2 separate regions of the Homo sapiens genome follow, and region 2 is linked to region 1. Evidence: fine-mapped QTL for protein levels in blood plasma. Region 1 holds a variant in brackets. A gene starts in the other region. All regions are shown on their forward strands.

Region 1 (15,684 bases):
ATGATTGCCATTTAACATCAAAATCACAGTTATTTATCTAAAATAAATTTTAATAGCTGAATCAAGAAAATCTCCTGAGGTTTATAATTCTGTATGCTGTGAACATTCATTTTTAACCAGCTAGGGACCCAATATGTGTTGAGTTCTATTATGGTTAGAAGTGGCTTCCGTATTCCTCAGTAGTAATTACTGTTTCTTTTTGTGTTTGACAGCTAAAGAAAAGAAGCCCTCTTACAACAGGGGTCTATGTGAAAATGCCCCCAACAGAGCCAGAATGTGAAAAGCAATTTCAGCCTTATTTTATTCCCATCAATTGAGAAACCATTATGAAGAAGAGAGTCCATATTTCAATTTCCAAGAGCTGAGGCAATTCTAACTTTTTTGCTATCCAGCTATTTTTATTTGTTTGTGCATTTGGGGGGAATTCATCTCTCTTTAATATAAAGTTGGATGCGGAACCCAAATTACGTGTACTACAATTTAAAGCAAAGGAGTAGAAAGACAGAGCTGGGATGTTTCTGTCACATCAGCTCCACTTTCAGTGAAAGCATCACTTGGGATTAATATGGGGATGCAGCATTATGATGTGGGTCAAGGAATTAAGTTAGGGAATGGCACAGCCCAAAGAAGGAAAAGGCAGGGAGCGAGGGAGAAGACTATATTGTACACACCTTATATTTACGTATGAGACGTTTATAGCCGAAATGATCTTTTCAAGTTAAATTTTATGCCTTTTATTTCTTAAACAAATGTATGATTACATCAAGGCTTCAAAAATACTCACATGGCTATGTTTTAGCCAGTGATGCTAAAGGTTGTATTGCATATATACATATATATATATATATATATATATATATATATATATATATATATATATATATATATTTTAATTTGATAGTATTGTGCATAGAGCCACGTATGTTTTTGTGTATTTGTTAATGGTTTGAATATAAACACTATATGGCAGTGTCTTTCCACCTTGGGTCCCAGGGAAGTTTTGTGGAGGAGCTCAGGACACTAATACACCAGGTAGAACACAAGGTCATTTGCTAACTAGCTTGGAAACTGGATGAGGTCATAGCAGTGCTTGATTGCGTGGAATTGTGCTGAGTTGGTGTTGACATGTGCTTTGGGGCTTTTACACCAGTTCCTTTCAATGGTTTGCAAGGAAGCCACAGCTGGTGGTATCTGAGTTGACTTGACAGAACACTGTCTTGAAGACAATGGCTTACTCCAGGAGACCCACAGGTATGACCTTCTAGGAAGCTCCAGTTCGATGGGCCCAATTCTTACAAACATGTGGTTAATGCCATGGACAGAAGAAGGCAGCAGGTGGCAGAATGGGGTGCATGAAGGTTTCTGAAAATTAACACTGCTTGTGTTTTTAACTCAATATTTTCCATGAAAATGCAACAACATGTATAATATTTTTAATTAAATAAAAATCTGTGGTGGTCGTTTTCCGGAGTTGTCTTTATCATCCTTGCATTTGAATATTGTGTTCAAATTTTTGATTGATTCATTCAGTATCTGGTGGAGTCTCCAATATTAGAAATACTGGAAACAAACTGAAAAACCACAAAAGGACAAATAATGCTTCATGAGTCAGCTTTGCACCAGCCATTACCTGCAAGTCATTCTTGGAAGGTATCCATCCTCTTTCCTTTTGATTTCTTCACCACTATTTGGGATATAAC[G/A]TGGGTTAACACAGACATAGCAGTCCTTTATAAATCAATTGGCATGCTGTTTAACACAGGTTCTTCACCTCCCCTTTCTTACCGCCTGCTTTCTCAGCTCAACTATCACAGGCATTACAGTTGTCATGGCAACCCCAATGTTGGCAACCACGTCCCTTGCAGCCATTTTGATCTGCCTTCCTGAAATATAGAGCTTTTCCCTGTGGCTTCCAAATGAACTATTTTGCAAATGTGGGGAAAACACACACCTGTGGTCCTATGTTGCTATCAGCTGGCACACCTAGGCCTGGCACACTAAGCCCTCTGTGATTCTTGCTTAACCAATGTATAGTCTCAGCACATTTGGTTTCCACTTAAGGTTTCCTATTTTTGACCTCCACATCCTGTTATTGTCTTTTGCAGTGATTCTCAGTGTGGTCAGGGACCACCTGTAACTGAATCCACTGGGTCACTTACTAAAAACACCAATTCACACTTATTCCCAGATGCGTTGAATCAGAATCTTTGAGTGGTGGGGCCAGGAGTTTGTATTTCCAAAAATCTTCCCAGTGCTTCTTATACCCATCAAGTTTTGAGAATCACTGCTTAGGCAACTCTGTCTGTGTCTCTTCCTCTGTCTCTCCCCCTTGCTCATTCTCTTGCTTGCTCTTGCTCTCTTTCTCTCTTTCTTGCCCCAGCAAGTGCTAACAAACACACAAGACAGCACATAGTAAGCATTTCAAAAGGGGTTGTTAAAAAAAAACGAATAGGTCTTTCAAAGTAAGGTAATGATTATTACCTAGAATGAGCTCCTTTTCTGTGGAAGACTGTGCTTCTTGCTCTCTAGGCCTTTGGATGGTAGCCATGAAGAAAAACACCAATCAGGAGCCTCAGTGGATAGTATATCATTTCCACTCCTCTAAACATCTTTAGAGAGATTACTCTTTTTCATAGTTGATGGGCAGATCTGAGTGACAGAGAGTGCCTTACACAAGTGATGCCCTCCAGGTACCTTTCAGACACCCTTAGATAATGGACTACTTTATATAAGCTTAATATTTCCTCTGCTATTGCCTAAAATTCTACCATTTGTTGTTCACTGAGATAAGACTTGCCCTCTTCATTCAGTCTCAATCTTATAAAAATAAAATACCCTTTAGCTCAAAAAAGCTTCCCCTATGGCAGAAGAATTGTACAAGAAAGACTATGACCCGGGGTTCCGCTGAAAGGGGAGAAAGCAAATATGAGGGTAAGGGAGTGCATCTGGGCACCAAATGAAAGCCTCTTCTAATTCCCATGTCATTTATGAGAGAAGATTCTATGTCTGTAGTACTCAGAGAGGTGAACTGCCCCCAAATCAGAGGACCAACTGTCACATGGGATTCCAACCTTCATCATCATCTCCATTTCTGGGATCAGGGTCCTGGGGCAGCTCCAAGCCCAAATAATCCATGAACCCAAAAGGGGCTTGGCCTACCATGCAGGGGGAGCCTGGGCGTTGCAACCCTCCTCCTTGGAACCACTTGTCACAGGCAAGACTGTGGATGACAAGGGAGCCGGATAGAGTGGCCAGGGGCTCCAGAGTCAGTTCCTCCTCCAACATGGCTCCTAGCACACGCCTCTGCTCATGTCTCTTCTTCAGCATGGTACTCGCATTCCTGCTACTTCCCATTTCTTCATTTCTCACCTCCAAATATTATAATCCTTCATTGTCACACCCATCAAGACTAATCCCAAATTTTGCCTCCACCGTCAGATTTGCTGACACTTTAAGCTCGTGGATTTCTCCTCTTTTGTTTCATAGCTATACTTGGTTTCACCTCTAATAATTTCAAGCATGCATGTCTTTTCTACCTAGTTAGATCAGGAACTTCTCCAAGACAGGGATAATCACAACTTTAGGCACACAGTAGATGCTCCAATAAATGAATTGAGGAGTTGGGGAACTAGGACATCCAGGACCGTTTTCCATACAGAACCCATCTGTGTTTTCTTAGGCAGTCCCAGCTTAATCTCTTTCCCATTTGATCATCAGAACTTTGTGCAGGTCTACTCATCTTTTGGCTTAAACCTTAAAGACTCTGGACTGTGAGTTCCAGCTGCCTACTCTGTCCCACTCATTCTACTTTGATCTTAATCCAGTCTTACTTCCAATCTTTTTCTTTCTTTGTTGAATTCTTATTTTTATTCTTTTTCTCTTTTGAATTGTTGGTTGTTGCTAAAATTGACTATATTTTTATACCCAGTCTGAGCCTTCTTCCGTATCCACAGTTAATAGTTCATTCAACTTAGTTGGGACTGAGCTCGTGAAACATTGATGTCACTGTGTTGTTAACTGGAGCAAAGCCAGTTGAGAAGTTCAAGACTTTATAAATTTAGTTATTCTTTTGGGAGTTCTCAAAGCAAAGGAGAACATGGCTTTCTCCGGAAAGTTATTCCCATTGCCTTACTTGTTGTTTGCACCTGGTTAGAGCCATGACTCAGGCTCCTTAGAAACCTTGTTTTATTTCATATATATATATTTTTTCTCATCTCAGGTCAATTTTTTCTGTTCAGTCCAGAAACATGACACACCCTATTGGTAAAAAGGGAGGAAAATTTATTCTTTCCTCTTTTATGTTTCCTTGGCTACATGCTGGGATAGGGGCTCATGGTAAGTTTGCCAGATTCAACCAAAAAACGCCACAAAAACAAGAAAACAGGATGCCCTGTATTTTATCTGACAACGCTATCAGCAGGAAAGCTTATGCTTCTAATGCAGTGTGAATAAAAAGTGTACTAGAGGCTGGGTGCAGTGGCTCACACCTGTAATCCCAGCACTTTAAGAGCTGAGGTGGACAAATCACTTGAGGTCAGGAGTTTGAGACCAGCCTGGCCAACATGGTGAAACCCTGTGTCTACTAAAAATATGAAAATTAGCCGGGTATGGTGGCAGGTGCCTGTAGTCCCAGCTATTCGGGAGGCTGAGGCAGGAGAATCGCTTGAACCGGGAGGCAGAGGTTGCAGTGAGCAAGATCACGCCACTGTACTCCAGCCTGGGTGACAGGGCAAGGCTCCATCTCAGAAAAAAAAAAAAGAAAAAGAAAAAGAAAAGAAAAGTGTACTAGAGACCCCTCTTCAGAAGTTTCTGAGCAAGAACAACTTGAGACTGTGACCACTGTTCCAACTGTAACACAATCTCCTGTTCTCACTTCCAGGCACATGTGGGATTGATGCTATGTCACTGGAAGCTAATGAGACCTGCAGAAGAGGTAGCTATTTCTCTTCTAAGCAATTTTCTTAGAGGAAGTTAACCCATCCTGCTGCATATTGCAAGGAACTTGACATTCAGACCCTTCTTGGAAATCTGCTTTCATGGGCACACTCTATGTTCTTGCATTTATTTCGTACAATAATCATCTGAAGCATTTGGAAAAAGTGCAGATTGAAGTTCCTCTGAACCAGAACTTCTCACTTATAAGGTCTGAGGCAGGGCCTGGGGATTTTAATTCTTCAGAGAGCCTTTAGGCCATAGTTCATAAGCTCTGATCTAACTCAGGATTCTACCATCATAGATGATTAGCAAAGGATATTGGAAATGATCCTCAGATTTTAGAAGAACATAAGGCTCGGAGACTTTAGGGACCTTGTCCAAGGTCCTATGGCGAGGCAGGACTTGAACTAGGCTAAGAAGTCAGATCTCCAGGTTTTCACATCAGGGCTCTGCAGAGGGTGGCACTGTGCACCTTTCTGACCAGGGGCTGTCCTTTCCAGGCTGCTTCTAGGACGTCCCTGCTACCACTCCAGGCCACCCACAGAAAACCCACTTTTCCATCCATCTCCATCCCAAGTACTCCTGTTACATCTCGGTGTGATTATCACCACTGTTGCTGCTCCAATGTTGGCTTCATCTTTTCTCTTTCTCCTGTACCCTTCCAGAGGACTTAGGAGAAGCATCTCAGGTGACCCAGCCTGTTCTTAGCAATCCTACAGAAAAATGCTGCAGGCGGACAACACAAAGCAAAACGCTGCCAATAAACAGTCTGTCAGCAAAGCCGGCAGTACACTGAGAAAGCTCCTATTGCCACTGGAAGTCGTGGAACAACCCATTGAGATGATACATGCTCTTTTAATCACACACAGTCAAGTTACTATAGCAACTAACAGTGTTTCAGAAACATGGTATTAATCACACAAAGTAATACTATCTATTTGGACAAAAAGAAGCAGCTTCCTCTGAGAGGAATTGTAAGAAATATATTTCAGGGGATGATCGCAAATTTTAGAAGATAACACAGATGACTTCTCATGAGCAGCACTTTCCTGAAGGACATCATCACCTTTTTCTTCCTGCTTGTCATTTTCTTCCTGCTTCCACCTTGTCATGTTAGCCGTGCAGCATGCATCCCACTGGTAGCTTTTCTCTTCACCTTGCTGAAAATGAGTTTTTCTGGCCAGGTGCGGTGGCTCATGCCTGTAATCCCAGCACTTTGGGAGGCCCAGGCGGGCGGACCTCTTGAGGTCAGGAGTTCGAGACCAGCCTGGCCAACATGGTGAAACCCTGTCTCTACTAAAAAAAAAAAAAAAAAAAAAAAAAAAAATTACCTGGGTGTGGTGGTGGGCTCCTGTAATCCCCGCTACTCGGGTGGCTGAGGCAGGAGAATTGCTTGAACCTGGGAGGCAGAGGTTGCAGTGAGCCAAGATCATGCCACTGCACTCCCACCTGGGCAACAGAGTGAGACTCTGTCTCCTTCTTTGTAGTTAGCGTGCAACTCAAACATAGTCTCTACTCTCCTGTGAGCACCTTTTTGCCCCTGGCATTATGGTAAACCATAGCAGTATGTTAAGGACAGGAAATATGGATTTGTAAATGAAGACTAGCCTTGTATTCCTTTCCTATTGAGGAAGCTGATTCACTAAGATATAGTTCATGAATTCCTTGTCCTGAATGAAGAGGGAAAGGAAACCAACTTATGAAGCCTCAAATACTGCACAAATGGATGTACATTAGCTAAAGCAATTCCCACAGTAACTCTGTGGAAGAGGTTCTGCCATCATCTCCATTTTATAAACGAGGAAATTAAGTTCCGAAAGGTTTAATTACTTGCCCAAAGCCAAACAGCTAGTAAGTTGCAGAATCAGGATTAGGACACATGTTTAATTCCAAAGACCATGTTCTTTTCGAATGACCATATCTGACTTCTGGGGGTTACTGGCAAAAGGAAAAGAGCAAAATGGAAGGTGAATGGGGATTGAAGTATTGGAGAAGTAATGCATGTATTACAGGGGTTACAAATGGGTGTTGATATATCAGCCAATGTTTTTTTGGACAAATATTTTAAAAAGCTTTCTGAAGGTGCTTATTTTGAGATTGTCACCAGCAGCAGCTCTCTCCTGTAACCAGAGAGGAAAACAGGAAGTTGAAGACATTCAAAGATGGACCACTGGCTCCAATCCACAGTTTTAGCAGTAACTAGCTGCTTTCCCATTTACTGGCGCTGAAGTCAGCGCTGCAATATTGCTGGCTTGCATGCCTTTCTGGCCCTAAGGTATCATAGGTTCTCTCACACTGATGCTTGGCTCAGAGATGGGGGAAAATGGAAATCATTAACACAGCCAGTGAGAAGCTCTGATCTTCATGACACCTGCAGCACGCTCCTTGCGAAGAGGGTGATTCTCCATTTGAAACAGGCTAGAGATACAGGACATAATGAACAATGGAAGTCAGTGGGAGCTACCTTGCATTCATATTTGTGAACTTTGGAATGGGGCTAGTTTCTAAAAGGGTAATAACCAGCCTGGAGCAGAAGCTGAGGGTGGGGCGTCGGGGGTGAAGAGGAGGGAGGGTCTCTGAGTTCAGGCTGAGGGATGCTGGGAAAAGGCAATGACTCCCTTTGAGGAAAAAAAATAGAGGGCAAAAGCAGACTCCAGGGCCTGAAGATGCCCCCAAATGGCAAATTAAGTGAACTGGTATACGGTGAAAAAAGTTATAGAGCTGGGTCCAATGCCACAGGCCACATAGAAGATTGAGAGAGGCTCTAGGCAGAAGCAGGGAGCTGGTCAGCCGAGATTGTGATGGAGGTAGCTATGCATAAGTAATTTCTACCAGAAGTTGAAGTGTAGGAATATCTGGGGTCAAAGCAAAAAAAGACTTTCCCTGCTGGGAATGGAAGTTAAAAGTAATGATTCCACTCTGAATCGCTGGGGGTGGAGGCAGGTGTGTGTGTGGTGTGTGTGTGGTGTGTGTGTGGGCACCAAGCAGGGGTGAAAGCTGATTATGGAGGGGTGGTGTCAGGAAACATCACAAAGGAACCCCTGAGTGCTTTAGGCCTAGGCGGAGCTGCGTAGCATGGACTGCACTTGTGCCAATTCGAGTGTTGATAGTGTTTGTAATTTGTGCCTGAGAAGACATGATTCAAGGATGGCATGAAAGTTGTGTGTAAGGTGTGAAGGGCTGTCACATGAAAAATAGATTAGATTTTCTTTGTGGGCTTCCTGGAGCACTCAGCGCTGGTGTTCCACAGAAGCACATGACGAAAGAGGGGGTTGGTATTATTTTTCTTCCTGTTTTAGGCTTGGATTCAGAGTCAGAGAGAGGGCATTGGACCCTGTCGTACTGCAGACTGGCCAGAGGCAGGCCTGTTGGATCCTCACTAACAGCAGCTGGTGGGTAAAGGAAGGCATCAGAGGACCTAGTTGGGCAGGGGCCTGGGGAAGTAGACCTGCTTGAATGACTAGCTCCTGCTGGCCTAGCTCCTCCTACGGCCTGCCTCTGAGACTTGTTACGGGTTCAGGCTCCATTCAGGCAGGCGTCACTGTGCACAGAGATCTACCTTAGCAGGAGGGTGCCACAGCAGGAAAGGATGTGGCAGGAAATGCCCAAAGCCAGATAGACGTTGACCTTCTGGTGGGTCAATCAGTTCACATTAGGATACCTGCCAACATTTGGAAGTACAGAGAATAGGATCCCACACTTATGGGGAGGCTAGGCAGGGTATCATGGAGAATTGGAATGCTGGGCCAGTAAACTGAGGCCAACAACTAGTTAAACCCCATAAACTGGGGAGGACTACCTCTTGGAGACTGAGATGGTTAATACTGAGTGTCAACTTGATTGGATTGAAGGATACAAAGTGTTGATCCTGGGCGTGTCTGTGAGGGTGTTGCCAAAGGAGATTAACATTTGAGTCAGTGTACTGGGAAAGGCAGACCCACCCTTAATCTGGGTAGGCACAATCTAATCAGCTGCCAGCATGGCAGAAAAATGTGAAAAGAGAGACTGGCCTAGCCTCCCAGCCTACATCTTTTTCCCGTGCTGGCTGCTCCCTGTCCTCCTACATCGGACTTGAAGTTCTTCAGTTTTGGAACTCAGGCTGGCTCTCTTTGCTCCTCAGCCTGTAGATGGCCTATTGTGGGACATTTTGATCATGCGGGTTAATACTTAATAAACACCCCTTTATATCTATCTATCTATCTATCTATCTATCTATCTATCTATCTATCCCATTCGTTCTGTCCCTCTAGAGAACCCTGACTAATACAGAGACGTTGCCTAGAGATATTGCCATAGGCTGGGTCACTGATCCCGGTTGTGTCCTAAAAATTCTTTTCAATGCAGTTCTCTAGGGAACCATGGATCATCATCACAGTTGGCACTCAAGATGTCATTGAGAATCTAGAGATTTTAAGCTACTTCCTGCCTTTTCTAAGACCCAGCTCACATGTCCCCTCTTCTGTAAAGCCTTCCTAAACCCTCATACATGGTTACTCTCACTTCATTTGGTCCTTTAATCATTTGGCTCTTATCACTCTGCGGTATCAACCTTTGTTTATGACCTTGTCGCTTCTCGAGATTGAGCTCACGGTGGGCAATGAGAGAGTGCTTACCATATTTGTCTACCCAAACCTTTAAAGAGGAAGATATTATTTCTATTTTTGTCAAATAATTTGCCCCAGATCTCATCGTAGTAAGTGGTAGAAATGGATTTGAATTCAAGTCAGTCTAATTTCAAACTCTGTGCTCTTTTCCTTAAATCTTGCACTCAATGTTGTACCCTTCAGCACATTGGCATGAGCTCAGGTGGCAGGAGAACAAAGCTGCATTTTTGAGCATAGACAGACGTAGAAGGAATTTCGTGGCTGCTCTAGAAGTAAAGTTCTCCTGCTATACCCTCAGAAATTTCCATCTTCTAGGCTGCATGCAGTGGCTTATGCCTGTAATCCCAGCAATTTGGGAGACCAAGGCAGGAAGACTGCTTGAGCTCAGGACATTAAGACCAACCTGGGCAACACGGCGAAACCCTGTCTCCATGAAAAATACAAAAATTAGCTAGGTGTGGGGGCATGCGCCAGCAACTCGGGAGGCTGAGGTGGGAGGATCTCTTGAGCCCAGGAGGTTGGGGCTGCAGTGAGCCATGACTGTGCTACTGCACTCCAGTCTGGGTGACAGAGTGAGACCCTGTCTCAGAAAAATAAAAAAATTCCATCTTCTGTGGTGCATTATATACACTGGGATCAAACTGGTCTTGATGAATCTGACTTTTGACAACCATCCTAACACTATTGGCTTTATTCAGTTGCAGCTGAACTATTTCTGTCTAACTTGGCTGCCTAACCTACAAACTGTTTCAAATCAGATGTCTTTTTTGTCTAGTGAAACTGAGAGAATTATTTTATAATCACGCTCTCTGGAAAAAAAAATAGTGAATGGAAATTTTTAATAAAAAAGAATGTGGTAGAAACAGAATTTTAAGTTACTAATTGGAAAACATGTGGCAAAATCTTTATCCACTGGCCTACAGTATTCCGCGGCCATCTGTGGAAATTTATAGGTATTAAATTAGATACGGGCTGGTTTTTGTGTTTGTAGAACGTAACAGAAACCTAATTGAAAACCACATAGCAACATCATAAAACCAAATGCGATCTCTATTCCTTTCAGTGTCAAAATGCATACACATGTGAAGACAATTACTTTGGTCCTTAAACAAAAAGACCTCCATTAATATTTTTATTAAATACTGCACATTTCTAAGAGGGAGATAGTTAAGAAAGTAAATGTAAGCATCTGTCTCAGAGTCTAAATTATATTCAAGAGTGATTGTAATAAGGACAAATGTTTAGCATACAAGGTTAGTCTTACTTTGCTTATATTCTGCTGTTTGAATGTTTTCCTGTGCATAGATTTACAAGTCTATGTTTTTGTTTGTTTGTTTGTCTGTTTGTTTTTGAGACAAAGTCTTGCTCTGTCGCCCAGGCTGGAGTGCAACCTCCACTTCCCGGGTTCAAGTGATGCTCTTGCCTCAGCCTCCCAAGTAGCTGGGATTAGAGGAGTGTGCCACCACACCAGGATAATTTTTGTACGCCAGGATAATTTTTGTATTTTTGGTAGAGATGGGTTTTCAGCATGTTGGCAAGGTTGCTCTCAAACTGATCACTGACCTCAAGTGATCTGCCTGCCTCAGCCTCCCAAAGTGCTGGGATTACGGATGTGAGCCACCATGCCCAACTTATGTTTAGTTATTTAAAAATTACTGGTCACTGGCCTTCCCGCAGAATCTAGAAAATGAGAGCAGAAGAGTTGCTTCATTTGACAAAAGAGCGTATAATATTTCCTGGGCTGAGGGAAGGAGGCTGGGCGAGGTGACCCTCTGGGATCCTGTTGGATGAGGTACCAGATCTGTGAATTGGAACTCTGTCCCTGAGAACACTTCTGTGAAGCCCTGCAAAGACAATTGTCAAGGGCAAGGGAACTAGTAATCCTTCCCTGGAGAACTAGGAGTCCTGGGTTCTGCTCTTGGCTCTGCCCCAGCAGGTCTGCCATTGCCTGGTGCTGTTTCTGGATTAGGCGCTGTTTAATAATCACCTTTGTCTCTTCCCGGATTGCTCCAGCCCAAGCTGAACTCCCCACTCCGGACTCATTCGCATGCTGTCTTGTAATGATGCAAATTGTGATTGTTTAACTCTGACAATTAAGTTTTTGTGCATTAATGGTACTATCTCCCTAAATATCTAATGAATTCCCCAAGGGACTTTTTTACTTTAGAGAGGCAGTGTAGAGTAGTGGTGAAAGCATGGCCTTTCAGCAAAAGGATTAGGGCCTAACCTTCTCAATGCACTATGCCTCAGTTTCCTCATCTGTAAAATGAGGTTGCAGGTTAAATGAGTTACTATATATGAAGTGCTTAGAATGGGCCTGACACAGGGTAAATACTATATAATATTGATATATGTGGTAAGTATATTACTATAGTATATTTTTATTATTTCTTTTTGACCCCTCATAGTATTTGGTTCAGTGCTTGGCATAGGGTTGTTCTACGTTTTTCCTACTTGCCTGCATTTCTTTTACCTTTTCTTTATTTTCCCGTCAGTAAATATTTGTTAGGCAAATAAGAGCCTTTGTAATGAGATGGATCCTGGTGAAAATGGAGGCTAGGTGGTTGAATTCACTATATCTGTTGGTTGTTCTCCCTTTGCTCCTCTAAATTGATTCTCTATCCCTGCTCAGTTCTATGCCTGGGGGAGCTGACCTAAATGGGCCACATCCCCTGCCAGCCCTGCCCTGTGGAAATCCACCCCCAGAAGACACAGCAGGAGATGAGAGAGTGGGCAGAAGAGTGGTTGGGATATTTCTTCCATTCATCTCTGCTTTGACACAGCATCCAGGGCTGTAGTTGTGTCCTTTCTTGATTACATCTTGAGTGGTCCGGCGGCCCCTCCTATCTTCCTGCCCTCACTGGGCTTTGGTGGTTGTTTTCCCGTTTCGTCTTAGACCTTGTAGAAGTAGGAGTTTCTGCTGGTGCAGGTTGCTGGGGTGGGGGTGGAGGGGGGTCTCAGCATCCACTGTTTTGCCTTAATCCTGTCCACTCCTCTATAAGCAGTTTTTTAAATTCATATTTCATCAGTCAAATTATCTGAGACGAATTCCATTTTGTGCCGAAATCTTAACCAAGACATTACATATTCCTGGAAATGTCCTTTTATGCCTCTGGGTCTCCATTTCCTCCTCTAGAGCAGAAGGGGGTTGGTCAGAATCACTGTCTCCAAGGTTTTTTCTAGGTCTGAGAGGCTACTGGGCTATCATTAGAATTTAGAGTGACTTTATGATAAACTGCAGAGGTTTTCAGTTACGAACAAGGTGAATTCCAATCAAGAACAAGTGTAGAGAAGTGGGCTTTGTGAAGAAAAGCAAATTACAGAAATACCAGGTAATAAACGCCTGACTGTGTGCAAGTGCATCAGCAAAAGACCCAGGCATGAGTAAGCAGTGTGTGATGTTGCTTGGAGGGGGTACATCTGGGTATACTAAGCAAGGTGTGATCTGTGGGAAGTACAAGGCAATCCCCTGGAAACGCTTGTCACTGTGCACACCAGGCCTGGATGCTGCGATTTGATTCAGCTCAGTAACTTAGAAGGCGTGAATTTAAGAAAAAAGAAACCTAAAGTTAGATTGGAATTGGAAAATGGCCTTTAGAAAGGTCAATTTCTTCTTTCCTTCCTCCTCTCTCCTTTCGTTAAGAGCCTGAAAACAGAATTAAGCAGTCCTCATTCATATGAGGGAACATCTCAAGTCCCTGTGTCTTGGAAATGAACTATGTTGAGCAAGTTGCATTTTAGTTAATCATACATGTAATCGTGGACATAAATTACAATGATCAGTAATTTGTATATTGTTAATGGGTTTGTCACTGGCAGTATTGAGGGTTCTTGAAAATATTTTCTTTTCAGTTTGCCCATTTTTTCCACTGTGATGGCTTAGACACTGAGGAATGACTGGCATAGAACAGGTTTTCATTGAATATCTCTAGTGGAAAGAGTACCTGATTAGTTAGAAGATGGCCATTTGAATAGCTGTTCCATTTTTTGATGTTAAACTCTTTCAATTGCTTGTAGGTAATAAAGGCCTGAGTATAGCGCTTATTTCTAAGGCATGCCTTTTAAAGTGGCTATGTTGGTTTCACAAGAAGAAATTGTAAAAGTAACAAGGTCTGGAGAAGAAAGATATCTGGCTAGCAAATAAAAATGGCTAGCTCTGTGTCCCAGCCCCATCACCAATTAATTGCCAGTTTCATGCAAGTTATTTAATCCCCTGGGTTTGAATTTTCTCACTATCCTCCATTTGAGGAACACATTTCTGTTTTAAAAGCATGTTCATGTGTAGTGCTGAAATGTAGTAGTCAAAGGAAATGGTAGTTTCTTTGGCCATCATAACTGTCCTAGAACTATGTAGTGCCAGGCTGATCAGGATTTATAGATAAGAGGGTCAAGGCTTAGGGATGTTAATTAACTTTGTTAAGAAATAGAGTTGTATTAGGGTGTTCTTACTCACTCAATCTATTTTCAGCTTCATTTTATTGTGATAGTATCTCTGTGATATATTTAGTAAGGAACATAAATGTTAATAGAATTATTGACCTGTAAGTTTTGAAATGAGCAAGTAAAATTATTCAACACAGCCTGTGTTCCTAGGTCTTTCTTGCTAGAATGTTAATTTTTATTGCTGAATGAAAGGCAAGTCATTTGATTTTGTAATAGATGCCCTTCCTTCCCCACTCCACACAAACCGCAGAGCTTTGCTCTCTGGAAAGAACTCAATATATAAGCTCCACAACAAGTAAGACTTGAGATGGCACACTTGGAACAGTCAGAATGAGTTTGGTGAGGTATGCTAATCAAGAGAGGAAAGGAGCACAATTCATTTCTGAATTGGTTATCAAATTCTTCTTGTAAGTGACACGATTGAAACTGTCAATTGGCTTTGCAACCTGCTGAGTCCATATTTCTACATCTGTGAAAGCTCAGCAAATGAGACCTTCTCAGCAAAGGAAGAGAGTTTCACCAGCAAGAAATTTCATGAGGTGTCGCACCCTGTGGCCAACCATTTCTCAAGAGACCTGTTTCTGTTTCACCTATCAAATTACCTTATGATTGACAGGCAGCTTCACTCATTACTCAGATTTCCTATCTCCTTGGCAAATCTGGTCACCACAATACTCTTTAAAAAACACGCTCATGTTATTAGTATGAAAACATTCAACACTAGAGCTTGTTGGGACTCAAAGAGTCCCCTTTCCCAAGAGCGGCCATTCAGTTTTCCCATGTTGAACCCTTATCAGGTAGGCCCAAGGACCCTTCTCTTCATCCCTGTTGAAATATTTTACAAAAGATTCTTCTCAATTGCATTCTATGCTGCCATTCAAAATCACAGGCTATCCGCACTACAAAATGATGCCTTAAATCAGATGCTGTACTAAAAATTATAACCAAGAAGCTCCATTTAAGTGGCAGGGTTTATTTAGCCATTTTTAGCGTTGTAAGATGGACAGAGGCATTTCTCTGTCTTCCATAAGGGAAGAGGCATCTCATGGAGGCCTATCAGTGTTTGAGCAATGTAGAGTTGAAGCTCATCCACTTACATTCAACCTTGAGATAGTCTTCTCTTTGAAGTCTTCTTCTATAAAATCTCTATAGATGTCTTCTTCTATAAAGATGTTTTGAAGAGTATGATGTGTTTAATATATGTGTAGGTGGCAAAGATCATTGAGAAAAAAATGATATGTGTTTAGTTTTTTTCTTTTGGGTGTTTTCTTTCCTTCCAGACATTATGTCTGTTTCAAACACACACTCCTAGTAGCAGAATAGCTACAGCTACATGAATAAACACATTGTCCAGCTGAAAGAACACTATTCAGACTGCTGAAAACAGAGCCAAGTTAAACAATAGGTGCATAGAAAGGGTAGAATGGCATTTTGCCACTTAATGAATTATAAGAAACAGATGTAAGTTGTTTAAAAGGACACATAGCCTGAATGTGGTCCATTTATCACAAATTTGCAGAAGGACTTAGATTCATGATTTAGGGAATAGTCACTAACTGATTTGTGTATATACATGTATTTGATGATCCTGTCATATGATTTCATGGCTTTTCTTATGCAAAGACCCACTTATTATTGGAGGTACTTAATGCTTTTGCTGGACTGGGGTTGAGAAAATTGAAAATTTCATTATCATCCACTTCTT
Region 2 (16,112 bases), not on the chromosome of region 1:
AGTCTCTAAAGTAACCAAGTCAATTCACTATAACTATTAAGTCTACCACTGAAACTAAAAACCGATTTTTTTAATATTGGAAAATAAGCAGTAACATGTAACACCTATCATATCACTAATACAATTTCATCCAGAATTAGGATTCTAGATGGAATTGGTTAACAAAAGAGAAATTCTTAAAAATAATTCCATCTTAACCAAAAAAGCAGTTTCTAATAACCCAAAAATACATTATAATTACAAATAATAATTCTAAGTTAGCTAAGAGTTGGTAATTCTACTACTAATGCTTTTTTATTCTGTTCACTCTGCTGTTTTAAAAGTGAAATGCCTATTAAATTACAATGCTTAGAAAAAGGTGAATTAAAAATGGGAATTTTCAATGAAATAATTCAGGATTATCTACCTTCTGCTTAGATATATGCTATATTAGTCTCGGCTGTGCAAAACACATATATGCTAGAGTTAACATTAGGCCTGTTCTTTCCCTGCTAGAGTCCCTGGAATCTAGAATAGTTAAACTGATTAAGCATTAAAGCTGGAAAGACTGTGGAGTTATCTTGTCTGACCCTTCATTTTCAAATTAGAAAAGTGAAGTTCAGGAAGGGAGAAATGGCCAGGCACAGTGGCTCACACCTGTAATCCCAGCACTTTGGGAGGTTGAAGCGGACAGATCACCTGAGGTCAGGAGTTCGAGACCAGCCTGGCCAGCATGGTGAAACCCTGTCTGTACTAAAAATACAAAAATTAGCCAGGGGTAGTGGCACACGCCTGTAGTTCCAGCTACTTGGGAGGCTGAGGGAGGAGAATAACTTGAACCTGGGAGGCCGAGGTTGCAGTGAGCCGAGATCGTGCCACTGCACTCCCGCCTTGGCGACAAAGCAAGACTCTGTCTCAAAAAAAAAAAAAAAAAAAATTCCTGTTCATATTCACAATGTATGGTAGCAGAGCATGGACTAAAATTCAGGAACTCCTAACTTTTTCATCAGGACCCCTTTCTTCCTCTTCAATTAGCAGCCAGGGAGGCTCAGGCTGCCCAGACACTCCCCAAAGAGATACATTCAAGCTGCTCCTTAACTTTTAATTTACACACCTATAATTAACTGACTTTAAAATTGTTAATTTACCTAAGTCAAAACAAATACAATATAGAGCTGAAAATTTTACTCTAAATCCTCCCTGCCAGTAACAGGAAATCTAAACTGAGCACTGAATAGTATTCATAACAACTTTCTTTCATATGCTCCTCCAAACTCCCAGAATACTTTGTGTCATGGACTCTAAGTATTTTCCATAATGATTGAATTACTCTTTGAAATCCTTGACTAAGCCCATTTTACAAATCTAGACATGAAGGCTGAGACTAGTTAAGAAATGTCCCTGTATTATATATATAGAGCTAAGAATAACCAGAAGTAAAATTCATAACCCAACCCTGTTGGACTTTTCTGAATCTCTTCTTGTGCTTACAGCTACGCTGCGTCACATACATTTTTGTGCTCATCTTTTTCCTCTATACTAGACAAAGGTATCTTCTCATCTTTGTATATTCCAAATCCAGTGAATTTTAACTTTTATCTTTCCTTACTACTCAAGGTGAAATACATTCCCGGTCTAAACTTTCCACCAACAGTGCCTTACTCAGGCCATCATCAATACAATGATCCCTCTAAGCATATCCTTCCCTGTATGCCTATGTAAGAATCCCTACCCAACAGGTCTGATTTAGAACACAAACAAACTACTGTTAGACAACTGTTACCACCTATATTAGTTCAGCAGCACAACTAAACCATTTCGGTCGCTTAATAAATGAAGACTAAAGTCCAGATACCATGTGCATTAGAAACTGAAGGGCTTAACAACCTAATCAAGCAATAAGAAACGCAGAATGAGCTCCTAAAAAATAAACGAGTAATTATAATTATTCAATCAATCAATAAGTATTCACTGATCTGGGAGCCAGAAGTTACAAAAATTATAGAAGACTACCTAGGCATAAAGTCTATCTCCAAGAATTATATATAGTGAGGAAACAAAAAACTAAAGAAAATAAGCAAGTTAAAACAAGTGCTGAGGAGTTAAAGGAAATAAAGATTAAGGTTGATTAATAAAAATGGCTTAAGTATCACTAAATCTTGAAAAAACAAACCAGGTGAGTATGGCAGGGAAAGATAATGCTCAATAACATTATCAGCCCCAATCCATATAAACCAGATATGGCTGTAGAGACGTAGTTTAATGTTTTATTTTTTCCTATTCCTTAGTTTCTCACTTATTCAGGACTATATATGTTGAACTTCACTTAGCAAAACTGCACATACTCTTTATATAAAATTAACTGAATCACACTACATGAAAGGCAACAGATCTAACTACAAAATAAGACCTAGTAATCTTGTTTATAACCTTCTCATTCTCCCTTCATAATACTACCAGCTAATGAATGGCATCAGAACTATTTATGTAAAAGTACATATCATGTATTTATGTATTACAATGAAATCTCAATTTCCACAAAATGAATTTTTAGAAACTGTGGTAAAACAAAAGATTTACTGATGATCTGCCTCCTCCATGAAGCCAATCACCAATCCAGAGTCTCATTAACATTTAGGCATATTTGCAGCGAATGAGAATAAAAATATGTTTCTGTGTACTTTTTCTGCTGGTGGTTATAATGCCTGCCTTTATTGAAACTCCCTTCCCTCACCTTCTATATATAACTGGGACTAATTTCTGCTGGAGACTTTAATTGTTCTTGAATTCCCAAAGTACTCTCTTAATTCAGGCCCTCATCATATTTCACCTGCAATACTATAAATCAACTATCTGATTTCCCTTGTCTTTCCCTCACAATCCTCAATCCACCTTCTATACTGCCTCCACCTTTCCCCTGAAAATTTTCTAAGTCAAATATGATCTTGTGAGTCCCCATTAAATAGTGCAATACTTCCCCAACTGTATCTCCTTCTTAGTTGTGAAATGTACACTGGTATCTTCAGCGGTGAGAGAAATGCTGTACTAAAAGAATTTGGTTTAACTTAATTTAGCTTCAATTTGCAAAATATAGACCAAAAATTGAAGAAAAATCTATTAAGATTTCCAATGTGCTCAAGGATTATCCTATCAGACAACGTGGACTTTAGCAGTGGTTTTCAAACTGTGATATACTTTAGAATTTTCTGTCAAGCTTGCTAAAAATAGACATGTCCAAGCTTCACCTCAGATCCAGTGATTCTGAGTAATATCTAGGAATTGGGCCTAGGCATATGCATTTCTCATAATCTCCACAATGATTCCAATTCATACCTAAATCTGAGAGCCCAAGCAGAAGCCCTCCTTGCTCCCTAACAAACCTAACAAACTTATTAGTAGGTCTCCTAACTTTTCAAGCTGTTTCATACCTCTCATCAGCCTAGGGAGTACCTGTTTAAATATAAATAATCAGTTATCCATTTTAAAAAGCTTTTAATCATCCTCTCTCCCACCATTCTCTCCTTTAATCCCCTAAACCTTTATAAAAATAGTTTCCATATATTTATACACAGTCTTAATCCACACAACTACCCCATGAGATAGTATCCTTGTTTTACAGATGAGAAAACCAAATCTAGGATAGGAAGCTCAAGAAACTTGTCCAAAGTGACCCCCAGTTTGAACCCACATTTGCTGTTACAAAGCCAAGGCATTTTCTACTGTGAAAAGCAGCCTCTTACACATCACTCTGAAGCACTGACTTATCAGTTTACACGTTTCCCTTTTTAGACCTAGTAAGCTCCCTGAGGACAAGTATCAGCCCTTCCAGATTTTGACCTCAACATTTATTCAATACATGTTTGTTGAATGAAAGAAGAAATGAAGCTCCTCCAGAGCTTCGACTATAACTGCTTCTGTTTCATTTCTTGAATTCTTAGGTAGAGCTCTGAGTACTGAGTATACTTCTGCCTAACACATTTGGTCTGACCTGTAAATCTTACTGCTGGATTTATTATGAGACAATATATTTCAGTAATGTTTTAAAGGACAAAAACAACCTGAATAATCAGCCAAGGGAGGAAAAGATTATTTCAAAAATTAAAATATCACTCTTACTTCACTCTCTATTAACTAGGGACTTCAAATATTGAAATTAGTATTTGCAACGACTTCATCCCACAAAAGCAGACAACTGAAAGTGTGGTTTTTAAATGACAAATTCAAAAGGTACAGTTGATTAATAAAAGATGGCATAAAGAAATTAAGCACTGAATACTGAGAGCCTATTCAGCAATCCACTTACACTAACCAATGTGCAACATCATTTTTCTCTATCACAGTATTTTTCCCCATCTGCCATTTTTCGAAACCAGTAAAACTACAGGTAAGCACAGAACAATTAGTATACTTGTGTATAAATGTAATGTCCTTTCTGCCTAAAGTTAATGTGTCTGGTATGTAGAACACAGCACAACTACTTCCTTTTTGATACAGGTTACATAGCTAATCTACTAAACCAGCAACTGAATTTTTTTCATTGGAGGTAACTAACATTCAAAGTGCTGAAGATTTTCCTAAACTGAGCATATGCAAACATTAGTGGTGCTTTAAGAATCTTGTATTTTAATTAGTTTTTGGTGAAAAAGGCAAAGTGGTTATTTCTTTAACACCACTTTTAGAAATAAATCAGTAACAGGAAAAAAAAATACCCTTCTAAAACAACATGATGTAGTGCAAAGTACAATGGGATAGGACTAGGTGTGAGGAGTCCTGGTTTTCTAGTTCTGGTTACATTATTAAATTGCTGTATGACTTGGGCTCACTGGATCAGTTTTCTCATTTGTTGAAAAAAGTGTGTGTGAATGGGGAGGGGCTTAAAGTTGTTACCCAAAATTCTCGTTTTGAGCCACTCCTCTTGTTTCATCCTTCTAATCAGGAAACTCAATGTTCTCTAAGGTCTAAATTCCGAAATATGAAACACATCTGAAATTGAATGGAACGATTCAATCTCCAACCGGATGGCACAAGATACAAAGGGTGGACTCCTATGAAGTTAACAATGAATCCAATAACTTTCCAGAAATTGTCTAATCCTAACTTCTTAAAGAAGCAGGTGAAATCTGGTTTGGCATACCTAATATTACTTAAAGGAGTTATAAAATGGTATTGCTTTGTTGAAATTTCCGTGTTTTCTGGGTTCCAGTGGCACATACTCTGCAGGTGCTAGCAAAGTGGAGAGAAAGGGATCCAGCCAGTATTTCAACAAACCACACTTCAACCCAGTCACCGCAGTATGATCCCGACAAGGCCTACACCACAGAGCAGAACCTCCCCACCCCCAGAATTGCCAGCAGCCAATGTAATGAATGCTTCCGTCAACAACACACATTCCCCTTCCCACAGCAGAACTGCTCGCTCCCAACCGGCCATCTGGGGTTGGAATTGGCCGCACAGCACCAAACTAAGAATCATTCTCGGCCCCAAAAGCCAAGAGCTACCAGAGATTGAGGTTTCCCTGCGCATGGCTGCGGGGAGAGCAGCACCCCCTCCCACCAATGGGGGGAAAAAAAAAATCAGTGGGAAGGAGAGTAGAAACCAGGCCTAGGCAAGGTTGCTAGAGAAATAAATCTTGTTTCTCTTTAACGAAGAGCAATAACATTTCTTGCACCCTCTCTAATCCGAAGAGAGCCCAGGCTCTTGCACTCGACTTCATTCCCTCCTGGAATCCTAATGGGAGATTAAAAACCACCTTCCTTCCCCGACCTATCCACTCCTCAAACCTGGCATTGTTAAGGAACGTACCCCCAGATCAAGCAGTAAGAGGTGAAGCGAGAGCTAGAACAAGGGCCCAGATTCTAGGACCAAGCGGCTCTTGCAAGAAAATCCCCTTGTGGCCTGAGAATAAAGTTTTAACCAGCAGCAAGGGCGCGGGCCGAGGCCCGGCCAGGCTGGAGGACAGGCCTGCGGAGGTGACACTCCCTTATTCTCCAGCAGCTCGGGAAGGCGGCGCCCGACCGCCACGGCCCGCACCCTGGGAGCAGGGCGAGGGCGCCGACGAGGGGCCGGGGCCGGGGCCGGGGCTGGCGGGAGGCCTGGCCCGCGCCGCTCCCGCCTCCTTCCCCACTCCCACTTCCCGGCCCCCAAGCCCGGGCCCGTGAGGTAATGTCACGGGTGGCGACGCGGGTCTCGTCCACTGACCACACATTTCTTGCCGAGGAAAGTGAAGAGGGACTCGTTCTCCTGCGGGGTGAGCAACAGGGACCCCACGTTGGTGACCCTCCGCGGCGGCGGCGGCTGCTGCTGGACGGAGCTCATGGTTTCGCCGGCGGGGTTGGGAGTCCAGGGCCGTCTCCTCCGGCGAGTGGGCGAGAGCTCGTTCCCCCTCTCGGTGACAGGGGCGGGGAGAAGTGGAGTCAGAGGCGCCACATCTCGCAGCTCCTCCGGAGCGGGGAGGAGGACGAGGTCGAGGGAAGCAGGCGCTGACGGCGAGCCACCTTCGCGCCGCGCTGAGAAAGGGAAGCTCCCGGCACCCGCCCGGCCAGGCTAGGGCCGGATGGTCGTTGTCCTCGCACTCCGGCGACTGCGCTAAACTCCCAACTCCTCCCCCAACCCTCCCGCAGCGGCGGCGGCGGCCGCACAATCCAACATGGCAGCGGGGGCGGGCGAGACCACAGGACGGAGGGCGCGGGGGAGCGCGCCGGAAACGCGCGGCTGCGGCCCGGGAGAAACCCCCCCACTCGGCGGCGGGCCTCGCGGCGCGGGCCCGAAGCCACGCCCCCTTCCGGCCGAGGCGCGGACCGCGCGGAGCTAAGTGGAATCCCGGTTGGCTTGGGGCGCAGGCTTCCAACTTCGTACTCTGGCCTCTGGCGTCTCGGCTCGTCGGTTGGGTACCCGAACCCAGCTACTGCTGCTTGAAGAGAAGATGGATGGGGACTCCTCGCCGTCGCTGCGCCGCCGGCCTTCCCTGGGCGGACGTACACCTTTGCGAAGCGTCAGTGAGGACCCAGGGCCCCTCCTTGGAATAGCTCTTATTTCTCAAGCGCTGCAGCGTGAAGCTCGCTCTGCGGGTCCGAGAGGCCTGCGATCTGAAGACTGAAAACTGGGAAGAGACGCTCTACCCTGTGCTCCTCGCCGGCTTCGATAGGAGCCGCAGGTGCCTGGGATTTTCTCAAACTTTGTCCCAAACTTCAGCTGTGGGAGTGGAGGAACAAACAGGCCTCTCCCAGAATTGTGAAAGAGATCGCCCTGGTGGATGAAACAAAAACAAATGCACTTGACTTCCACCGCCTGCCTGGCGTGTCACGCGGGTTTAATGTATGTGTCACATTTAAATTCAAAGTATTTTCTTCTAAGGGCCTGGACACATTTCTTTTCTCCCTGTATCGTGAATTGGAAAATACCTTAGGATATTAAAAGTTATCTAAGATAACCCCCTTTCTTCTGTAAGTTAAATACTAAACGGCTTAAGACGAAATTTTGGAATATAGAGATGATGATGCAGACTGCAGTGAATTATCAAATATGCATCTCACTGTTCTCCACATTAAACATATTTTTGTTGCGTAAATTCATGTTAAGACGTCTATAACAATTACACTTTGGTAAAATTGTTGGATGTTAACATCTCTGATAGCTCCCAATAGAAATCTCTGATGTACTAACCAGACTGGTAAACCATTATCATGCACTTTGAAAATATAATAAAATATTATAATTAAAGCTGCCATTAATGAAATAGGCTGAGCAACAATAAATTTACAAAGGAAAATAAAAGTGGATAGCCTTGGGAGTTCTCACATAAAATATGGAGATTTCAAAGTTAAACTTGATTAATTATGTTAGGGTAAAAAGTGAATTAAAGCAACAGGACTATTTATAAAATAATTAGATTTAGAAAGCAGTCGTAGAAATATAAGCCTGGAGTTGCCTCTGAATTACATATTTAACAAACCTAGAAGCTAAATCAGTTTGTCTTTTATCAAAACTGCAACTCCTCTAAGTTGAAAGCACAGTGACAAGAGAAAGCATTACAAATTCTTGAGAAATAATAGAAATTAAAGCTCTTTTCAAACCTGTGAACAAGTATAGTACCAGAAGTATAAGATTCAGATAGGCCCAAGTTGTAGTTCTTGTTATGAGTCTTACAACCCTATGGACTTTGGACAAATTACTTCTCTGCGTCTGTTTCCTCATCTGTAAAATGAAAATAATTTCTGTTTCATACAGGTATAGTCTAAATAGGGATAATTACACCTACTTCAAAGTTGTAAAATACACAATTACAACTAGATAGGAGGTATAAGTTCTAGTGTTCTGTAGCACTGTAGGATGACTATAGTTAACAATATTGTATAGTTTCAAATAGCTAGAAGAAGGATATTGCATGTTCCCAAAACAAAGACATAAGTTTTTGAGATGATAGATATGCTAATTACCCTAATCACTATATGTTATATGTATTGCAACATCACTATGTACCCCCATAAATATGTACAGTTATTGTGTATTAAAATTTTTTTAAACTAAAATTATAAGACATTAAAAAAAGGTATCACATGTAAAGTACCTGATACATAGTGGTTACTCAAGTATTAGTTGTCGGCCATTGACAGTCCTTGCCTATGGTCTTTTCTGCTTTCCCTGAGCTAAGGGATCAAGACTTAATATATGTATTCTTACCTTTGTTCTAATTCTGACTCTTCAAAAACTGTCCTTCAAATATACAATTGTACATATTTTTTCAAAAATATAGTGAAGAACTTGATAGCAGAATTTCTGATTAGGCCATATATTATATCAAATAGGCTACATATATCCCAGTATGCCAAAATAAAACTTTTTAAAACTGTAAATCCAGAGATAGAATCCTATTAGCTTCTAATTTAATAAAAACTGAAAGATTAGCAAATTTTATGTTAGAAATACCAGCTTTTAGAACTTGTAGACCACCAAACTATTTTGAAGACAGGAAAGAGTAGTGGGAGAGGGCTGTGAAAAAAAAAAAAAAGGCCATGAGATGATAGGTGAATGGACAGTAGCTGCGTTCAAGAATTTATCTCATTCTGAGAATTATTGAGTTCCAATCATTTCACAACCTCTTACTAGCCTAGACTATCTATTGTTTTGATTTTCTTTTCTTTCAGGAAATTTTATGACTTATCTAAATGCAATTTTCTTTTTACTATTTGCCCTTTTTCTGTTTTCTTTAGACTTGGAGATGGAAAATGATGACCACAGTAGACTTTTTTCCTCAGGTCCAACCTTTCTTTAATTTTTCTCCAAATTTTTAGTATAGTCCTTTGTCCACAAAATTGCAATTTAAGTTCTTGTCTTCTACCCTCCATTGTTATTTTTGTTTTTCTCTGGGCTTTTTCCAACTCTTGATGTGGAAAATGTAAGCATGAACATTTCACTGGAAATATGACTTCCTTACTCATTTAAGCCTGTGAACAAGCAATATTTGGGGATTCCCTCCTTACCATACATAAAGGATTCTATTTTTCCATACTCATCCTGAGACCAAGCAGTACTGGCTGTTTTTGTTTCAAAAGTTTTAGCAAGTCCTTTCTTTCATTCTTGATAGCATATCCTCTGTTTGGCAGAACACAAGACATCTTTTCTCTCTGTTTTCTTTGGCAAGTTATTTCCTTATCTCAAATTTTTTTACCCAGTTTGAGAGATTGGATTTTATCCAGGACATAAGCATTCTGTTTCCCTTCAACAGAGTATCTTGAAGTTTGTAAGCGCTGTTAAGAAGACTAGGGGTTTTATCTTAATATACATATAAAATGCATATGCTAGAAATACCAGCTTTCAGAGCTTGTAGACCACCAACCTATTTTGAAGACAGGAAAGAGTAGTGGGAGAGGGCTGTGAAAAAAAGCTTTATTACGGTGTATATGAATATAACAAAAAAAAGGCAATTCTTACATTTAATTTCTTCCATTTGACTCTCCTTACCTCAACTAGCATCTATTCTAGTACTTCATTTTCTTCTTTCTTTGGTATGATCTTTTAAGGTAAAGCCCTCATTTTAACAGAAAACATTAGGGTAGCTTATTATGGAAATGAGAGCATATTTTCAGATACATTCCTGCTGTTATCCTTATGGGTACTTTGCAAGCTTCTCTTGTTACGGTTCTTTGTTATATATTTTTCTTCTTTACAAATGTCATTGTTTATGTACTGTTAAAAGTCCTCTGAAACACCCTATTCCCCTTGCTAATGTTAATAATTTAAAATGTAGTGACACCCTTTACTGTGGGGGAATATAAAGGTGGCTGAAAGCACACGGCATTCAGCAGCCATTGTAGCCATAATTGCTGCTTGGCTATGGCAGAACTGATTTTATAGAGACAGAACAACAGCAAATCTGAATACTGCAAATCTGGATTTGCAGAAAAAGTGCAGGGGCAATGAGTGCTACTTCTCCCATGCAACCTCCAGAAATGTCATGTGTCTAAAATGTTCGTCTTGTAAAATATCTGCACATTTTTATGTAAATGTTGCATATGGCAATGCTTACAAGAATTTATTCTAGTACATGTTATCCCAAGTTAAATGTTAATTGTTTTCTTTTTCATCAACTAAATTCTGAAAAGTAAGCTAGCACACCATTTTTTTTCTGCCTCTCCTTTTTAAATTCATTTTAACTACAAACCTCTTTGGGGCTTTCTTTTTTAGGAATAAATAGTTTATTTACAAATCATTCTGATTTCTTATTGAAGTTAGTGGAAAATTGAACACTTATTCATGCTACAAAATTACCAGTGATAGTTACTACCATTATATGTCCTAGTCTCCAAATACCTAGTACTTACCTGTAATCAAGAAATGATTTGAAGAGCTAAGTATGTTATAGTTCCCAGGATGCTGCTTATGGTTTTCTGGCTGCTCTTTAACTTTAATGAATATTCAATGGCTTATTATTATTCCAAATGAGAGAGAACAACATTGATTTCTTTATTGTAATGTTCTCAAGGTCAATCTACATTATAAATGAGTAGGCAGGCTGGATACTTGGGAAAATTTGAAGATGCCACATGTCCCCATTACCACATTGAAATTATTGGGGTCAAGGATATGGTCTCTGCTACCATGTAACATTTTTAAAATCAATTTTTATTTTTATACAAATGATAAATGCACATAATTTAAAAAATCAAATAGTAGTACAAAACTTAAAACAGCATAAAACAGAAGTTACATTCTTGGACCACTTTAACTTTGTTGGATTTTACCCCCCTCAATAATTTGCTTAAATTTTATTTCTTTTATTTCTTCTATATTAAGAACTATAAAGTCCTTCCTCATATTATTTTCCACATAATCAAGTGTATCAGGAATCTATTAGACTCACTAATTTTAATCAAAGACCTGTCTCCCAAAGCCATCCATCATCCCATATTAATCTGTACTGTTGCTACATGGCTATTGTCTGGAATTTTATTGAGTTACTATCCTGGGATTTCCCTTTATCTTTCTGTATTAGACCCTCTGTTTCTTGGAACCTATGTCATCCATCTTGATGTACTCCCTTGTTTTGATAGTGTATATCCTTTAGTGGCTTCCTAAGAAAAAGTGCATAGATAGTAAAATTTTGAGACCTTGCATAGCTGATAGTTTTATTCTAATCTCACTCTTGGTTGATTAGTTTAACAGGGTAGAAAATTTCAGGTTGAATACCAGTTTTCTTCAGTATTTGAAGGTGTTATTTTATTGATTTCGAACTTTCAACATTGCTGTTGAAATCTGAAGTTATTCTGATTCTGATCTTTTGTATATAAGTCTTTATGACCTCTAAAAGTTTTCAGAATTCTGTTTGTTTATGGAATTCTGAAAGTTGATGATGTACCATAGTGGAATACTTTTACATTTATTGTACTGGGTATTCCAAAGGCCCTTTTTATCCAAAAACTCATGTCTTTTAGTGCTGGAAATTTTTCTTTTGTTATTTTCATATTTTTCTTCCCCTTTTTTCTCTTTTCGCTTTCTGGAATGCCTGTTGGTCAAATGTCAGATTTTCTGACTCATTCTATACAATTAGAAAGCACACCCAAGTTTCACTGTGGAACTACTCCAGTGAGCCCTTCAGTGTGGTCATCTCTGGGCAGAGATACTATAGATTTACTGCTAACATTGGGAATTGGAAACTAGAATCTCTTCTGAGATTCTAAAAGCAGGGTGTTTCTGCTGCCATCCTTGCTGCCCTTTGCCACATGCTTCTTCACTTTATGTGTTTTCAAATCACAGTTGCCCATGGGTGTGTCTGATGAGGGAAAGGTCACATACCTGTACCCTAGCTGCAAAAGAGCTGGAGATTTCAGGCTCGTTGTTAAGGGTCTGCGGATTCATAAGGTCAGAAATTCCATGAACACAGAAAAAGTATTCAAAAGGTACTCAGCAGCTAGTGAATTCAACTGGGGACAGTTGGAACTTCAGGATGTTTGATGACTGGGGAGAGGGTCTTTGTTAAGAAAAAGCAATAATATGAAATATTAATGCTTTCCAATTTTATCAAGATGATAGCATTTTTGTGTACTGAATTACATGCATATTACATACATAATAAAATTGTAAAACTCTGTATCTAGGAAGTAAATAGTCTTTATTTATTTTTGCCTCCATACAAAGTCTTTAATAAGAACTGTGTTTTTCCCCCACATTAACTAGGTTACTTGTCCTTAGAAAGTTGGTAATGGTTGAATGGGTTAGTACTATATGTTCATACACGTTGATATCATTTATCTATAAATAGCTATTTAGCTGATTCATTAAAGCAAATTGAAGTAAGTCATTTTGATATAATAAATTGTCAAAGTCAGTGATATGCAGGCTTTTCATTTGTAAATTGTAATTACTTTTTAAATGTTTGTCTCCTACATTAGCCTCAAAGCTCTCTAAGAGCTGGTATCATGTCTTATTCATCTTTGTATCTTTTTAGTCTTAACATTGAACCTATACATTATTCAACGTATATTTGTAGATCAAATGACCACCTTTGATTCAAATAAAAACATATGAATTTTTATCAGGTACAAAGATAGTTACACAGGATCTGAGATCAAATAAAGAGAAACCACAGTCTTGCCCAAACTCTTCCACACAGTACTAAGCATGTGGTATTCTGAGAGCACCTGGAGAGAAAACACAATACATAAGAAACTGCACACAACCTAATGGTAGCAGGAGCAGGGCTTGTGACAACAGCAATAGAAAGGAATGACCTCCACTTGAGATGACCCAGCAACCTAATTCAAGTCCAGAGGATAAAGTGATTTTTTTTTTTTCCTCCTGAGTGAGCTCAGGTGTCCAGGGGCCTAGTCTGAGAAAAGAAATGTGTGTCATATTTTAGGGATTTGGGGGAATAATAGTTTTTAGCATGAAGTGATTGCAAAAACACTAAGTCAAGGCTTCACTTGGTCTTAGAAAGCAACTCTGGAAGCATATGGAAGCAAGCTTAGTATCCAGGAGCGTTGGAAACTAAAGTGAAAATAACCAGGACAAAAAATAGGCTGGCATCCCAATGGACTGGGGGAGACTGGCCAGCAGTTCTCATAGCAGCATTAGCATCACATGTTAGAAATGCACATTCTCAGGCCCCACTCTTGACCCACTGAACCTGAAACTCTGGGGATAGGACTCATCAGTCTATGTTTTAAGAAGCCCTCCTGGTGATTCCAATAAGTAGACCTTCAAGACGACCTCCAGGGGATGAAATTTACCACCCCCACCAGCCACCTTCCACCCTTTCCCAAGCATATAAGGCTTATGGCATTACACAAACTATGTTTGAATCATATTCTTTTGAGGGGACGGAACTTGTAATGAACCACTGGGATTTATTCTTGTCAGTTTAAGACCTAGATAGGATAGAGTCTGTAGGTGGAATGTCTTCATTGTTCACACCTGGCAAAATAGCTGTAAGGGCAAGCAGGTATTTATTAGCTATAGCTTTTCTGATCTGAGTTCCGATAGTAACTAGCCATGAAATCTTACTAAAATCACTCAACTTCATCATGCTTCTCTTTACTCATTTGTAAAATGAAAGGAATGACTTAATGATTGCTAAGGTCCTTCTCAGCTCAAAATTATATAATCAATCCCATGTATTTTGGATTTTAAAAAAATCCTGCATTTTAAAAAGCAATGGGTAAAAGGCAGTGCATAAGGGAATATAAACAATTTCATGGCTTTTTCACTATTACAAATCCTTTTTTGGTGGTATGAAAATGAATATATAAGCCTTATCATAAGCCTACTCTATTGAAAGAGGGATTGGTAAAGAATACAATCCCCAGAACATAAAAATCCTGCTTTTAGTTACCTCAGAGCAGGAAGGAAGGGTAATTGGTGACTGTGGTTTCATGGAATTATTGATCTAATATTTGCCATTTATATTCAAAACTGGATTGCATGGTACTTGATAGTTGTTACATCAGTCATGATTCTCAGTTCCCTGTGGCTGGAAGTTAGTAGTATTCATTGATTTTTTTGTTTTGTTTTTTAATAGAGAAGGAAACACATTGAACATGCAAACAACTTAGAGTCGATGGTCACATTAGAATAAGTTCCTCATTCCTAGTTTAGGGAGTCATTCCTCTCAATATCTTTACTTAGAATCAGTTTAAAAATTAAATTACATATTCGCTTTCTCACATTCAAATTTCCTTTTAGGAAGATAGAATATTGGCACTTTTCTTTCATCTTGATCCTCTTCATACTGAAGCTATTGTGTGTTTATTATATGTTCTGTTGGACTGGAGCTTTGAACTGATGAAAGAGGAAAGCTATAACAAGCATCAGGGCTGACTTGGTATGTTGACTCAGTTCCCACATAATGATGGTATCTATATGCATGCACATTATAATGTTCTGACACACAGAAGGAAAACGTGTTCCCCTGTCTCAATTTCCTGTTTTAATGCAAGTCCATACAACACCCCAATCTTCCTCAGGATCTCCAAGCACCCTTGGATTTATTGTGTCATAAGGGACAATTCACACACTACCTCACCTCAGCCTGAACTTACTAGAGAGTCTTCTTTTGCTCTCAGTTCCATTGAGAGATAGCAGCATTGTGATCATTGGACAGTGTGATTGAAACAAGGCACTCAACTGTGCCTTCTTGTCATTATCATCCAGAAAGGCCCACCAAGCCTTGTTCTTGCTGGAAAGGCACGAAAGGAATAGCAACATGTCCTTCATTTTGAAGCACATATTTCTGCATGCCTCAGAATAACGGACCCCCAGAAACACCCCTGAGGTATCAGGCTCCTATATTTCATGGCATTTCTATCCCCCAGCATTCATTTATGTGACCAAGGACATAGTGTACTTGCAACTTCCTGCTCTACCGGTCATTTCAGCATGATGTTATTTTGTACAATGAGCTAGTCTGATATCAAGTGGAATAGGAAGATGGTCTAGGATAATTGCCCTCTGCTTAAAAATGAGCTGACCTGTGAGGCACACAACATCCTTCCCATAAATTCCCTTTTGCTTTAGCTAGCCTGGGTCAGATTCTGTTATTTACAAAAACTCTAGGTGATTCTGAACTGGAAACCCTAGGTATTCTAAAATTTGTACCATGAAGGTGGTTACAAGCAACAGATCTTTCAGAAAACTGGGTCATTTGGCACTGTTTACCTGGCTATACTGGAGCAAGAGGTGGTGAAACTCTCATTTATATTCCAAGATGGGAAACTAGCATCAGACAATTACATTACTGCCTCTGGTTATTAGGATCTAGAAACTTCTGAGGTTCTAGAAAGCTTTATGGCCAGGATCAGCAAACTACACTCCACCTATCCTGTTGCCTGCTTTTGTAAATAGAGCTTTTTGGGGGGGACATAGCCATGACCATTCTTTCAGTATTGTCTATGACTGCTTTCATGCTACAACAGCAGAGTTGAGTAGTTGTACCAGAAACCTTATGACCTGCAAAGCCTCAAATGTTTATTATCTGGCCATTTACAGAAAAAGTTTGCCAACCCTTGCTTTAGGTAACTGCATAGTTTTTGCCATCGAATAATAGAAGGGTGAGGAATTCAAGAATTGTGAGATAGCATTAGATAAATTAACCAGTAAGAATGAATGAATGTTGCCTCTGAGGATAGCCTGCTACAGGGATA

Direction of the effects. Alleles are on the strand shown, and positions count from the first base shown. The strength of an association depends on the size of the effect and on how common the allele is.
For the plasma level of the protein whose gene starts at base 6,563 in region 2, G is the high allele of the variant in region 1 and A is the other (weak association).

Evidence for each region. A credible set is the group of variants that fine-mapping cannot tell apart. PIP is the posterior inclusion probability: the model's chance that the variant is causal. Protein levels are from antibody-based Olink assays in UK Biobank. Linkage for the fine-mapping came from a reference panel and not from the study's own genotypes, which makes the PIPs less certain.
Region 2: WASL starts here. The variant in region 1 is the best candidate, but not a certain one, in a credible set for the plasma level of the WASL protein (UK Biobank, PIP 0.69).

Annotation. Positions count from the first base shown.
Region 1 is chr2:203,872,496-203,888,179 of GRCh38, forward strand. CTLA4 (cytotoxic T-lymphocyte associated protein 4) reads left to right here. Exons shown (of 4, transcript NM_005214.5): 4 at 213-1,470. The coding sequence ends at 317. Among named protein-coding and RNA genes, the nearest start is that of CTLA4, 13 kb to the left of the region's middle. The variant G/A (reference allele first, on the strand shown) is at 1,701.
Region 2 is chr7:123,742,441-123,758,552 of GRCh38, forward strand. It overlaps WASL (WASP like actin nucleation promoting factor), which reads right to left and starts at 6,563. Exons shown (of 11, transcript NM_003941.4): 1 at 6,178-6,563. The coding sequence starts at 6,294. It overlaps WASL-DT (WASL divergent transcript), which reads left to right and starts at 6,755. Exons shown (of 1, transcript NR_170281.1): 1 at 6,755-8,541. RefSeq lists enhancers at 5,484-5,533, 6,293-6,947 and silencers at 5,976-6,065, 6,526-6,845.